2 linked regions of the Homo sapiens genome follow. The protein of the gene in region 2 interacts with the protein of the main gene of each other region in a pairwise test. Each region holds a gene or a part of one and is shown on either strand. Other genes may lie near its edges. The genes, in order: PELI2 and RNF220.

Region 1 (5,768 bases), on a different chromosome or scaffold from region 2:
AAAGCTAGGTATACATACTGTGCTCAGGGCTTTGTACATACGGCATATATGTATCATATCCAGTGATCAGATGAGGAAGATGAGGCTCGGGGAGGATAGGTTACTCCCCCAGTTCTGTTTTTGTGGGATAAATTGCTTCCCTGTGTTATCTTCAAATATTTTTTTGCTTGTTCTGAGAGGAAAGAATCTTGGAGTGATTTGCTTGATTTTGCTTTTAAAAGGCATGTGTCTCAAACTTGTTGTAGGTGGAAAGTGAGACCAACGTCCTGCAGGACGGCTCCCTCATTGACCTGTGTGGGGCCACTCTCCTCTGGAGAACAGCAGATGGGCTTTTTCATACTCCAACTCAGAAGCACATAGAAGCCCTCCGGCAGGAGATTAACGCCGCCCGGCCTCAGTGTCCTGTGGGGCTCAACACCCTGGCCTTCCCCAGCATCAACAGGAAAGAGGTGGTGGAGGAGAAGCAGCCCTGGGCATATCTCAGTTGTGGCCACGTGCACGGGTACCACAACTGGGGCCATCGGAGTGACACGGAGGCCAACGAGAGGGAGTGTCCCATGTGCAGGACTGTGGGCCCCTATGTGCCTCTCTGGCTTGGCTGTGAGGCAGGATTTTATGTAGACGCAGGACCGCCAACTCATGCTTTCACTCCCTGTGGACACGTGTGCTCGGAGAAGTCTGCAAAATACTGGTCTCAGATCCCGTTGCCTCATGGAACTCATGCATTTCACGCTGCTTGCCCTTTCTGTGCTACACAGCTGGTTGGGGAGCAAAACTGCATCAAATTAATTTTCCAAGGTCCAATTGACTGACGCCCTTGACAGCCATCTACGACTTTATTAACAGGTTACTGTGAAGATTTTGCCACTAACTCTAGATTTTACCTTTTTGTAATGCTGTTTATCAGAGGAGGGTGACAGGGGCTGGAAATAAAGAGAGGGGACATGGTGATGAAACATGGCAGGAGTGTAACAGATACCAGTGGTGTGTTGCATGCTCAAAACAGCAGCGTCGTCATTGAAGTCTGCTTGATTAAACCATAATATCTTTGTAATAATTGGATTTAAAATGCTATGCTTCTATTTTTAACCTTGGGTTTTTAACCAAGTTTTTTTTTTTTTGTAATCTTGGACAAGACTTTAAATCATATTTTACAGATGTAGAAGAAATTTATTCAAAAGTGTGGGCTCATGAAGTTCACTTCAGTGCAGTGTGGTGTAGGTGTTACGCGAAGGGCGCACAGTGTCTAGAAATACTTGATCGTGGCTCAAACCTGACCAGACAGCAGAGGGGCGGCTCTGTACAGTGTGACTGGTGGACAGATGGCCTTAGGCACAGGTGGTTTTGAAATCTGGGGCTTTTTCTGATTTATTTTTCTGACTTGTTGGGGGAGAGAATATTCATAACTTGTGGGCTTTTTTTTTTTTTAACTTCAGTGGAATTTACTTTAGATATTCATTCATCAAATACATGGGACTTCACAAACAATTTTCCATAACTTTTTAGCCTGTCTTTTGTTATTTCTGCCTAATATGATTTGCCCCGATACTCATCTTGCACGGCCAGAACTGTTTGGTTGATTAAAATACATCAGCTCTTAAAAACTCATTAACTGAGGGTAATTACAGTAGTAGACATGGTCTGGGTACTATACTACCATGTTTATTTGCTGACTGAATTAAGATTTAAGAATGATTAAAAATAAGCTTTTACTTTTTAAAACCACTTGAGGTTTCATAAAGCTTGGGGTTTTTTTTTTTCCTTTGTTAAGAAAGCCAACCAATCACAATGATATAGTCATTGTTGTGCACTCCCTTTTCACCATCTGTCACCTTCCCTTGCAGCTTAAGGAGCCCAGTAAGTTTTGAAAATGTTTGCGAATCAAACTAAATTTAAGTGGGATGATTAGATATACACAACACCAAGTGGTACATCTGCAGAGATAATTCAAAATTCCTGCTTTTGAGAGAGCAAATGAGTGTTGCTGAGGAATAATTAAATGAGAATTTCATAGGAGCTCCACCATTCCTGTTACTTTCATTTCATTTTGATTAATAATTCTTGGATGCTTGGCATCGATCGTATCACTGCTCCTAGAAGGTAAAGATCCTTTAGGACATGAGACTGGTAGAAGCTGGCTGAGATAAAATAAGTATTTATTTAAACTAATGTTCTCTTAATTTGACCATTGCAGATTTGGGTGACTTTTTTTTAACCTTTGTACATATACGTAATTTATATGATTCTAATGTACTATATCCATACTTGAATTGGTTTTTTCGTATTTTGCCTACTGGCAAATATTTTGCCTATTTTCAGTCGTTCTAACCTATTTGAATACGCTTTTCCTTAAAGTGATACGATAATATTACTCTTGATTGCTGCTGCTTAATTTGATGTAATATGTTTAAAGTTCAGCCTCTCAGTTTTAATATAGCTTTATTTTTCAGTGGAGATCATTGTTTAGGATGAGACATTTTTGGTTTTGGTTTTGTTTGGGTAAATTTTAAATGGTGTGAAAATCGATGACAACAGTCCTCTTACAGATAGCTTGCTGTATTCTGTATAGCTTACTCTACCTGCAGACAGAAAATGAAAGAAAAAAATGGACTTGCCTAGAATAATATATTGAATGCCTTTTGATTTAGCCAGAGTCTCTGATGATTAGCTTTCACTGATAGAGTATGTCTTTTCAGCCTGTAATTCTTTGGGCCCCAAAGAATGACAAAGGAGGCACTCGTTCTCTTTTCTTGCTGTATGCCTAGAAAGTGGTTGAAGGATTCTTGATGCCCTAAAACCATCTTGTAAGCTAAATGGTCTTGCATCCAGAAAGGCCAGATTTTACCTACCAAGAAAAAAAGATATTTTTCCAGAGAGTTAGGTATATCATAATTTTCCATTTCAAGTCCTGTTTATAAGTCTAGTCATTCTGCAACGTGACATATCCCCCAAAATGAAGTTACCTTCCAAGTTGGACACGTCCCGTAGTTGGGCATATGTCTAACTAAAAGTTTCTGACTTTTAGTAAATTCAGCTTAAATATAAGTTGAAATTTGGGAAATAATTTCCAAGCTCTTGGAAGGGGTAACAGTGAACCGCCCTCCATGGGCTCCACATCTTTTCCTTTGGCTTCCAAAGTCAGGTCCCGCCCACCCTGCCTAAGGAACTGCAGAGAGGTGGCAAATCAGCAAAAAGGACACCAGGCTCTTCTTGGCCACTTGTAGGAAGATCCCTTTACAATTTTGACTAAGGAGATTTTTTTTTTCACAGTTGAGTTAGTTTGTGAAAATAAAGAACTCTGTAGCTCACCAAGGTGGAGAAACGCAATTCAGAAAAGTAATTTCTCCAAGGTCACTTCTTTTTTTATGTCTTGCCATCACTTTAAAGGACTAGCCCCACTCCCCCATGTGTATACACAAGGAAATTGCAGACCAATTAGTTGTCTTGGCCTGACTCTAATGCCTTTTGCAAGTAGCTTTCCAGAAGTAAAAGTCCCAGTGATGTATTCCCATAGAAATATTTTTCAGTTGTTTATGTCGTTTACTACAAAAAAAAAGATTCAGAGTGGATGGAGTACAACTCTGAGTATTTTTCTAGTCCGGAATTTTTTATTAATAATCGGTGCTGCCGGGTCATGCATGCTGCAACTCTCAACATTTCCCTTATTTGGTTCAGCTTTTAGCAAAAAGGGCTACAGTTCACCCTGCAGAGTATTAAGGTTTCTGGATTTTTTTCTCCCAACTGTGGCCCAAAAGAATTAAAATCTGTTAATATAAATAGAGAACATATTTATCATTCCTCGATAGTTAATTATAGACTTTGGTACCTTTGTGCCTCAGGGAAGCCACGTGATATAACTGGTTATAGAATTTCAGGGTTAGGGTTTAAAGAAAGGAGAAAGCCATTGGAAAAATGATGGGCTCCATTAAGGAGACTAATGAATCTGGATGCAGAAATATGTCAGAAACTGGCATAAACATGATTGTAGTAGAATTTATTTTCCAGTACCAATAGGGAAATTATTTTAAGTTATTACATTTACTGTATTGGGAAACTTGAGGAGAACTCTTTAGTTCATAAAGCTTCAATGTCTTTTTTTTTTTTTTCATGGAAAAACTCAAACCTCTGTTATTTGGGAGCTCAGTATTGTGTGGACACTTACGAGAGTTTTCTGCTTAATTGAAGTGTAATATAGGTTGTAGAATTGTTACCTGCAGTTCTATGGTTTTGTTTCACTTCTTTTCTTTTTTAAAGCCATTCTGTTCTTTGGATGTGCTTGAAAGGGTGTGTGATTACACCATTGTTAATGCTGGGTAAAAACTATCTTCTTGCAGCCTTGCCTCATAACAGTGGAATTTCTGATAGACAAACCACAGGACTTTGATTTTAAGCCAAATCCATCTCCATCCCTTTACTGTCAATCTTCTGTCCCAGTAGTTTAGCCTTTGTGGCTTAGGTTATGATGCGCCTCCTTCTGTGCGACCAATGAGACGACTTCAGCATCTTTTTAAAATAATCTAAGCATCATTGAAGCAGTAACACAAAAAAAAGGTTCAGTATTTTCTTTTTAGTATAACTTACATCCTTTCAAATAAGTCTTTGCCCTCATGAAGAATCCCTAGAGGAAGATAAGGAAAATAAGTATTTTCCAGTTTTGCTTGACAGTTTCTAAACAAACAAAAATAAACTCAATGAAAGGAAAGATGTTTCTTTTTAGCTGAGATGACAGATTGCTTCTCTGTATTAAATAGTCTAGAAGTTAAGGGGATGGTCACATTTACCATGTATTGTGTTATTAGCAGTTAAATTTTATGAATATGTTTGTAAAATTGTTGTTTTATATTTCATGTCAAATTGAAAAGTTTATTTCTTCACTATTGTACCTGTGGAAATACAAGCCATTTTACAGGAAAAAATCTTCAAAAACTATTAAATGGATATCAGCCTGTTTGTGAGCCATTGTCTTCAGATTCTGTGGTTGTCACTGAGTTCATTAGGACATTTAGTAGGTTGATACGAGTAGAACTGATTTTTTTCACTTCTCTAACTTCCAAGTTAATCTCCAGCTGTTGAGTTTATTAATTGTTTTATATTCTGCACAATACATATTTAAACCTTGATTCTGAAAATCCCCTACATTTTTTAATTAAAGAAATTTCCTTGGTGCCTATATTACTATTTCTCGTGACATTACATCACTGTCAAATAAAGTTAACTTCCAGGGGAATTTAACCTGACTTGTAGAATTAATGGATTTTTGTCATGATCATTTCAGCCATATTGCTGCTCTTGTGACAGTCTTCATTCACTTTTAACAACATAATAAGGATTGTGTATAAGCCTTCAAGCCTTCCTTGAAGCCTTAAACTAATATATCTATCATAAGAAAATGTATATATTTATGACAAATTTTGTTCTCATCACATTGATATTCAAAGAGTTTTAGTATTATTGAGAGAAACAGATTTTTCATTTCCAGAAAAAAAATGCACATTTATATAGGCTTTTATTTCAGGGGATAAGTGTTCCATACTTTGTCAAATCTAAGATGCCACGAATTGTGAGATGTGTTATAGAAAATCACAACTGGTTATAATTGTAAGTTACATTCCATTGGGCAAGGAATACACCTCACACAGCATACAAACATTAAATCAAAATGGGTCAAAGAGCTACAACTATAGAACTCTTAGAAGAAAACATAATGTAAACCTTTGAAAACATAATGTAAACCTTTGTAACCTTAGATTTGTCAGTGATTTTTGACA
Region 2 (7,154 bases):
CACTGCCCCCATCTGCCCCTGAAGCTTTCTCTCCCTTTGGAAGCAGTCTTGTATACTGTCACTCGATTATCTGAGAAATATTACTTATTTCAAAACGGTTCTGTAGGGAGGACCTGAAAGGCATCTAGTGGGAATAATCAGGCCTTCTAACGACCCTTAAATATGTATTTACATAAAACAGACCATAAATATTCCGACACACGTCGGCATATGACAGGAGCCAAGAAAGCTGCTGCAGACTTTGTCTTAGTGCCTCTTCAACCCTTCCTTACAGAAAAATACTTCTCCTGCCTTCCAAAAATTCGCAATCAAAAGCACAAACGCTATCTAGTATGACCCAGTGAGGGATGTGCTAACCACCTAAGGTAAGGAAGGGAGTAAAAAGCACAACTCCAGGGTGACCACAGGGTAGCACAGCCTCCTTTTCACTTTGCACCTTTGTTTTTTATTAAAGATTAGTCACAAATGCAACTCTGGATAATAACGAGGGTGTACGAACACCCTCCCCTCACAGACACTCCTATAGGTTTTATGCTTGTGTACAAGAAAAAAAAAGGAGAACACAGGGTACTCTATAAGGGAAGACTATTTTAAATGAATAAAAGAGGAAAGGGACTCCAATTTGTATAACACCGCATTGGAAATAAAGAAGTTTCCCCACCCTTCTGATCAGAATCTCATTAATTTCAAGGTCAGAATTCCATTTCACTTTGGGAGACAGACTCATTTAATTTTTCTCCACCCAGGCGTACTCCTGTGTGAGGGATCCATCTCCATGGGGGATGCCACCACCACACAATGCAAACCAGGCAAACAGAAGAGTTATGGCTTTGACACTCAGAGGGGAATGGATATCCACGTCTATGAGTTCTGACTTGACTAACAAGCTTCCTCCTGCTCTGGAGTCGGATACAGGTTTGGGCTAAAAAGATAGAAAAATGGAGACAAGCTGGATCTGTTAGGTAAGAAGAAAGAGATCTCAATCTCCAGATGTTACTTTGTGGCATATTAGCTAAGAGAAGATTTCATTTTCAACTTGTATTTGGAGAAAAAAAGGGGCGGAATCTGTCACACCCTAACACAAGGCAGTTTTGGCTGGAGGTCACATTATAACTAGCCTTGATCACTTGCACATCACTGGACAAATGAAAACTAAAATAAAATCAAATGAACCAACACAATGCCGATACCTGTTCAGCAGGTATATCCAAGAAGCAGGATCACAAGACACACAAGTCAACAGAAACTGAAAAGGTGAAAGAGAACCAAAGCCAAAGTGAGAGGGCAACACTAGCAGTAGTGCTGTCAGCCAGCAGCCTTCTCCCTTAAGTGGGGAGGTCTCCGGCTTACAGAGGCTGACATAAAAGACACACTTGCAACATATTTCAAAACCAAAGAGCGATGGATTTACAAGGCAGGTTGATTTTATGATGACTTTTATTGAAAAGGTACGCTGGGTTTAGGCAGATGCCTTTTAGCGCAGGGAAGTTAACACAGTGCCTAATTCAAGGAGACAGCCTGACGAAGCAGTGGCGACAGGGGAGAGAGCTGCAATGTCTCTATTACTCTCCTCGGCATCATAAAGAGGAGGGAAAAAAATGGTATTCGTGTTGGTGGTTATAGAGAGGATGGGAGCACGAAAAAATAGAGAAAAGTGGAAGGCAAACCTCAGATGTAGTTTTCTTAAGAAAATAAAATGAAGCAAATCTGAGAACAAAGGGTTGCGTGGAAAAAACACCCTCAGTTCATAAATTCTCACCAGGCTTGAAGAAAACTGCTCTGTCTACCCACAGCCCAAAAGCTTCAAAACACAATTATTTTCTGATTATATTAGAGCAAAAGATTGCAGGGTTCAGCACTCCTAGTCTACAAGTTCCAAATAAAGGTTTAGTTCCAGCTATAAGTGTAGCCAGAGCCCAACAAGGCACTTGGAGAACATGAAAAAAAGCTGTTTCATAAGCAGAAATTAATAATAGTTGTGAACATCAAATTTGGAGCAGTCACACAGGTCAACCGTGTCTAGTCCTAAAAGTGAGCCCCAGGATAAGCATCCAGCAAACCTGTGAAATCCCAAGAGAAGTCGGCTTTCTAGCCTTGCGATCGCAAGGAAAACACAGCTGTGTGAAATGCTTTATGGTGATTGACGACACCTTTGTCCTTCTCTGAAAAATAGCCTGATGTGGACAAGGGCTGAGAGTTGTGAAAATAGAATCACGTGGAGTCTGCTGGATGTGATACAATGGAAAAGCTAAAAAATAACACTGAGATCAGACAAACATAACGAGGACAGCAAAGAGAGGAGGGGTGGACATGTTTCTTTAGGCCCCCCAAATTCCCTAGGAGCCGACACTTCTTAATGAAATGACATTCACTTCAGTACGTCGGTGGCACCCCTCTTCACTCAAGTCCTCAGAGAATAAGCCCACTAGGGTCCGGAGAGAAAGGCTGTGCTGGGGCCAACTTGCCTCTGGCTACTTTCAGAAAAATATTTCAAGAACTATCAGTGCTCACTGATAAGAGACAAGCAAAGGTTAGCACTCCACAGCTAGTGAAAGGGAAGTAGTTGGCCCTTCCTATTACTAGGAGCATGCAAAACGCCACCGACCTGTTGAACATCACGGTGAGGCAGGGCTTACTGGGGGTAAGGGAGGGCTGGAACCAAAGTACTTACATCTGTCATTCCGATCCTCTGGGCTAGATGAGGCTTCCCGATCAGAAATGAGGCCAGAGACAGCAAAAATCTTCTTCCCAGTGTCATCAACCTTTAGTGAACCGGGGGAGCTAGATGGCAGCTGTGTCCCAAAGTCATATTCCTTGCCATCTGCATCTGAGAAGCGCAAGTGGGGAGACTCTGTGTCATGGCAGTTCTTAAGTCGCTTGGCCGGCGTAAAGGCTGACTGATAGCTCTCCCGGTCCTCGGTGGAGGCAAAGGGCCGGAAAGCCCCCACACCACTATGATTCAGCATACTGATTGGGGTGCAATCTAGATTTGGGGGAGCAAATTGAGGGTGGAGGTGTAGTAGAGAAGGGGGGAAATCACGATTGGCAAAAGTGCCTGGCACCCCACCTTGCCGATGGTACATAGAGGCAAAGGTATAGGAACCGTTGGTGAAAGGAATATGCACGTCCTTGTCAACTGAGACAGGTACACCAAAGGGTCGTGGCTGCTGACAAGGGATGGAAGCATCACGGCTGGCCTCAGCCGTGGATGCCAGGACCATCAGTGCTGGGGATGCCAGAGGGTTGGGAAGGTAGGATGAGTTCTCCATCTTGAAGGCTGCCCGGTGTAAGTCCATCGGAGTCTCTTTCTGTGGCCGGCGTTACGCAAGAAGCAGTCTTCCCTGGGAGGGAGGCCAACCAGCACTTTGGGTCAGGGCAGGGAATATTACTGGGGAATCATTCCCTCCTAAGACCTGTAGAAACAGCAAAGAGAAAAAAAGAAGGGGGAGGAAAGTCAGGGGGAGGAAAAAAAGGGAAACCCCAAGTGATCGAAACACCATCCTTCTGGCTCACAGATGCTCGGGCAAGAGACACCACAGGCTTTAGGAGCCAGTGGGCAGCAGCATCAGACCATTTTCATTCAGGAAAATCAATAGACAACTTACTGTGATGTACGCGTAGCTGACTTTGGTCCCTACACGTTCTGGGTGAAATGCGCCTGAGCCCAGCAAAGAAAAAAATATCATAAAACCTCCAAATACGATATTCTCTGAACAAATGAGCTTTGGAAGGCCAAGCCATCCAGTAGATTAAGTGGGGGTCTATGTTTTAAAGTGCTTCCACCTGCATCCACCACTCATGGCAGGCCTGATGTTCAGAGACCACATTCTACCTATACGATTCCCCACATATGCATCCTCTCTTCATCTCCCCTAACAACACCCTGATACTGAAATATCCCTAATTCAAGTTCATCTAGACCAGGAACACTTGTACATATTAGTTAGTACAAAGTATACACATGGATAAAAGATACACATTGGCATATACACACACACACACATCTTCATGTATCATCTAAGACTGTTTCCAGAAAAAAGTGCTATATGAACAAACAGCATTAACATTTATTTTGAGGCACACCTCTCTCTAATCACATGGGCTTTCTATTTCTCTTTTCTGAGAAGGAACAAAACCTTCATCAATAAAATGCCTGGCGTCTCTGACAACACTTAAAACCATAATGGGTGCCTTTGGCATACGCTCTCTAGAAGCATCTGTCTTCTAAGGGCAGCAAAGAACAGATCGGTGATTTTAGTTACTAATGCACTCACTCTTAAGTAGATTTGTAAACTGCCTTGGATTTGCCATTAACATTTAGAACAAAATGTTAACAAAATTTCTGACTTATTTTGCTCTGCTTATTGGCCCAGTCAGAGCTGATGTCCAATAAAGGCCCCCGGAACAAATTGGAGTTCGGAGAGACTTCTTTCAGTTTCCCTTGTAAATTTAGGTTGTACATTTTCATAGTCAGTGGTTCCATTCCAAAGTGTATTTTGAGTGGGGGCTGGGAGAAGGGCTATATATCAAAAGCCGGGACAATATAAGATGAATACCAAGACTTATTAGTGTCAAAAATATACACGAAATAGAAACTTAGTGAAACTCAAAGCATAACCAAAAATCACCGTCTGCTACAAATTATACCTTTAAATTGAGAGTCATATCAGAAATAAAATCTACCTCGTCCCTTTTAAAAAGCCCACCTGGAGTATCTTTGGTATTCCCTCAAACAGAGAAACATCAGTTAAACGGTAGATGAATCCTCCTGGCTTAATGCAGTGCAAAGAGAGTATTTCCTTCTCCCATCCTGTAGCAGACATGTCAATGACTGTTATTAATTGGGAAGATGAGTGGACACCATCAGACTGCTTCCTCATTTGGCATCTTTCCTTATAGACATCATTGCTAAATTACCAGATTATGTATCTCACATTAACGGATTTTTCTCTCTTCCAAATTTTAAATAACTTTCCTGTCAAGTTATAGCAGTGCAGGGAATGATCTGCCAAGGACAGCCAGTTAGGCTGACAAGTCTGGGAATCCTGTTCTTGGCTGTTTTCTAGTCAGATTAATGGTCATACAACATGGACGCTCTGAAAGTGGGTCTAGGGCTGTTCCAAGGGTTCTAAGCAGCTCTTCACAACAGAAATAGCTACTTATCTATCAACAAGCAATATTATATGAGGAAAACTGGAGAAAAGAAATGTGAAGGGAGGAATGTTTCCCCCTCAAAATACGACCCCCCCCAGGATTCACTTGCTATTTTTACTTCCTAGATCACCTCATTATCTTAAATGAGTTTCATAAATTAGGAATCTGGTGACAGCACCGGACACTCCAACAGAACCTGGTGAATCACTCAACCCTGGTTATTCATTTGAAAACTTCATTACACTGAAAATAAATCAACAATATTTTTCCAGGCCACATCTCTTTTACTTCATTGCGTGGGCGTTGGTCTCCATGGGGGAGGGGGGAGTGCTTTTTTTCTTTTTTTTCTTTTCCCTTTTCTTTCTTACCCTCTCCTCACATTAACAACTTGTATAGATGAGGCTTCAGCTGACCACAGTCATTATGAAAATCTATAGTTAATACACTCCCAATGTCAAAATGTCATGGGTTTAAACACAGAACCCAAAATAAGAAAACTAACTGACCCTCTTAATTAAAAAAATATGGATTGTAAGATAATCAGCTTGATGGAGCATTTGGGTGACTGTGAAGAACCCGGCAAAGGGAAAGTAAGTAACTGTTACTTTTCTGCCTCTATGCTGATTTTTTTTAATTTAGCACTTCGTGCAAATCCAGATTAAAATAACTCCAGCTATTGATCCGAGCAGTGGAATTGACATTAATTTTAGTTCACTTCTCACTTTGCAAAGGGATCAATAGGAAGTAATAACAGCTGACATCCCCGCTGAAAGGAGGAGAAAGAAGGGCTGAAGACAGAAATCGAAAAGCAACCAAATAAATCATCAGCTACTTTTCCACGGCATCAGACAAACTCCAAACAGATTGCAAAAAGTCTTTGTTGAATTAACTAAACAAGGAGGAGGGATCAATCCACGAAGCTAAATAAATTGTCTGGCAGGCAGTGAGGTTGGACGGAGGGACCAACAAATATTGAGTTAAAAAATTTCAAATCCTTGACGTGATGGGTTTGGTTCAGTTCCGTATCTGTGGGAGTTTGTTTGTTTCTTAAATCACACTCCTGACCCTGGTTTAAAGTGATTGCAAAACGCCAGCTATCTGAATAATTAGTGAGATTACTAATTGCGTGGTTAAACACGCCAGAACCAAGACAAATGAAACGAAGACGTCCGCGTTTGGAACGTGAAAATGTCTGAGGCTGGGCTGATGCGCAGCGCTCCGCGCTCTGCGGAGCGAACTAGCCACTTTCGCACAGAAAAACCGAAAGCCCAAGAGAAAGTCTCAGAGAGTAGGTAATCTCCCATCCCAGTCCAAGGTCTGGGCTTCCTGACCTGCGCCCGGGATCGGCATAGAAGGAAGCGGTGCTGCTGCCCCCTCTGCCTCCGCCGTAGCTGAGAGCCAAACCCCTTTGCAAATGACTGCCACAAAGAAAGCTGCAAAGGGCTCTTTCCCGGAGCCGAGCTCAGGGCGCCCACCAAACTACGGCTCTGCTGGCAATTAAAATGCACACACAACACTCCTCTGCTTATTACAACAGGTGACAGTTTTGTGGTCTCTGAACCGTTTCCAAAAGCCAGGAATTAAAATAATAGAACAAATTAAACGATATTTTTCCTTTGCATAAATAAACTTTTAAAAAAATTAACAAGGAACTTAAAAAGCAAAGAACAATGGGAAATGAGGCAGAGTAGTGGGGGGTTGTTAAGAACGCAGGAAAAAAATTTTTTTTTTAAGTTCACAGACTTCTTCGCTTGAAGAGAATTCCCGCACACCAAATGCCCAGGGGGTATTTGGAAACACCGCTCTAACAGAAATTTTACCACCATATGCGAGAGCTCAGGGAACATAAGGCTAACACAGTTCCCGGGCTAGGGCCGACGCCTGTGTTTCAGGCATGGCCGGGTATGGTCCCAGATTTGGACCCGGGTTCAGGCCCAGCTTGGCCAAAGGGTGCGAATCCGAGACAGCCCGGGCCAGTCCGAGAGTGCGGGGTCGCGGGA

What was found.
Region 1: the proteins of RNF220 (region 2) and PELI2 interact in a two-hybrid assay, tested with the Homo sapiens proteins (one study listed by BioGRID).

Annotation. Positions count from the first base shown.
Region 1 is NC_000014.9:56,296,355-56,302,122, forward strand, and holds the end of PELI2 (E3 ubiquitin-protein ligase pellino homolog 2), read left to right. Parts: intron 1-245; coding exon 246-812; 3' UTR 813-5,170; downstream 5,171-5,768. UniProt on the Homo sapiens protein: E3 ubiquitin ligase catalyzing the covalent attachment of ubiquitin moieties onto substrate proteins. Involved in the TLR and IL-1 signaling pathways via interaction with the complex containing IRAK kinases and TRAF6.
Region 2 is NC_000001.11:44,408,240-44,415,393, reverse strand, and holds part of RNF220 (E3 ubiquitin-protein ligase RNF220), read right to left. Parts: exon of another isoform or gene 3,606-7,154; intron 3,414-3,605; 5' UTR 3,297-3,413; coding exon 2,672-3,296; intron 1-2,671. UniProt on the Homo sapiens protein: E3 ubiquitin-protein ligase that promotes the ubiquitination and proteasomal degradation of SIN3B. Independently of its E3 ligase activity, acts as a CTNNB1 stabilizer through USP7-mediated deubiquitination of CTNNB1 promoting Wnt signaling.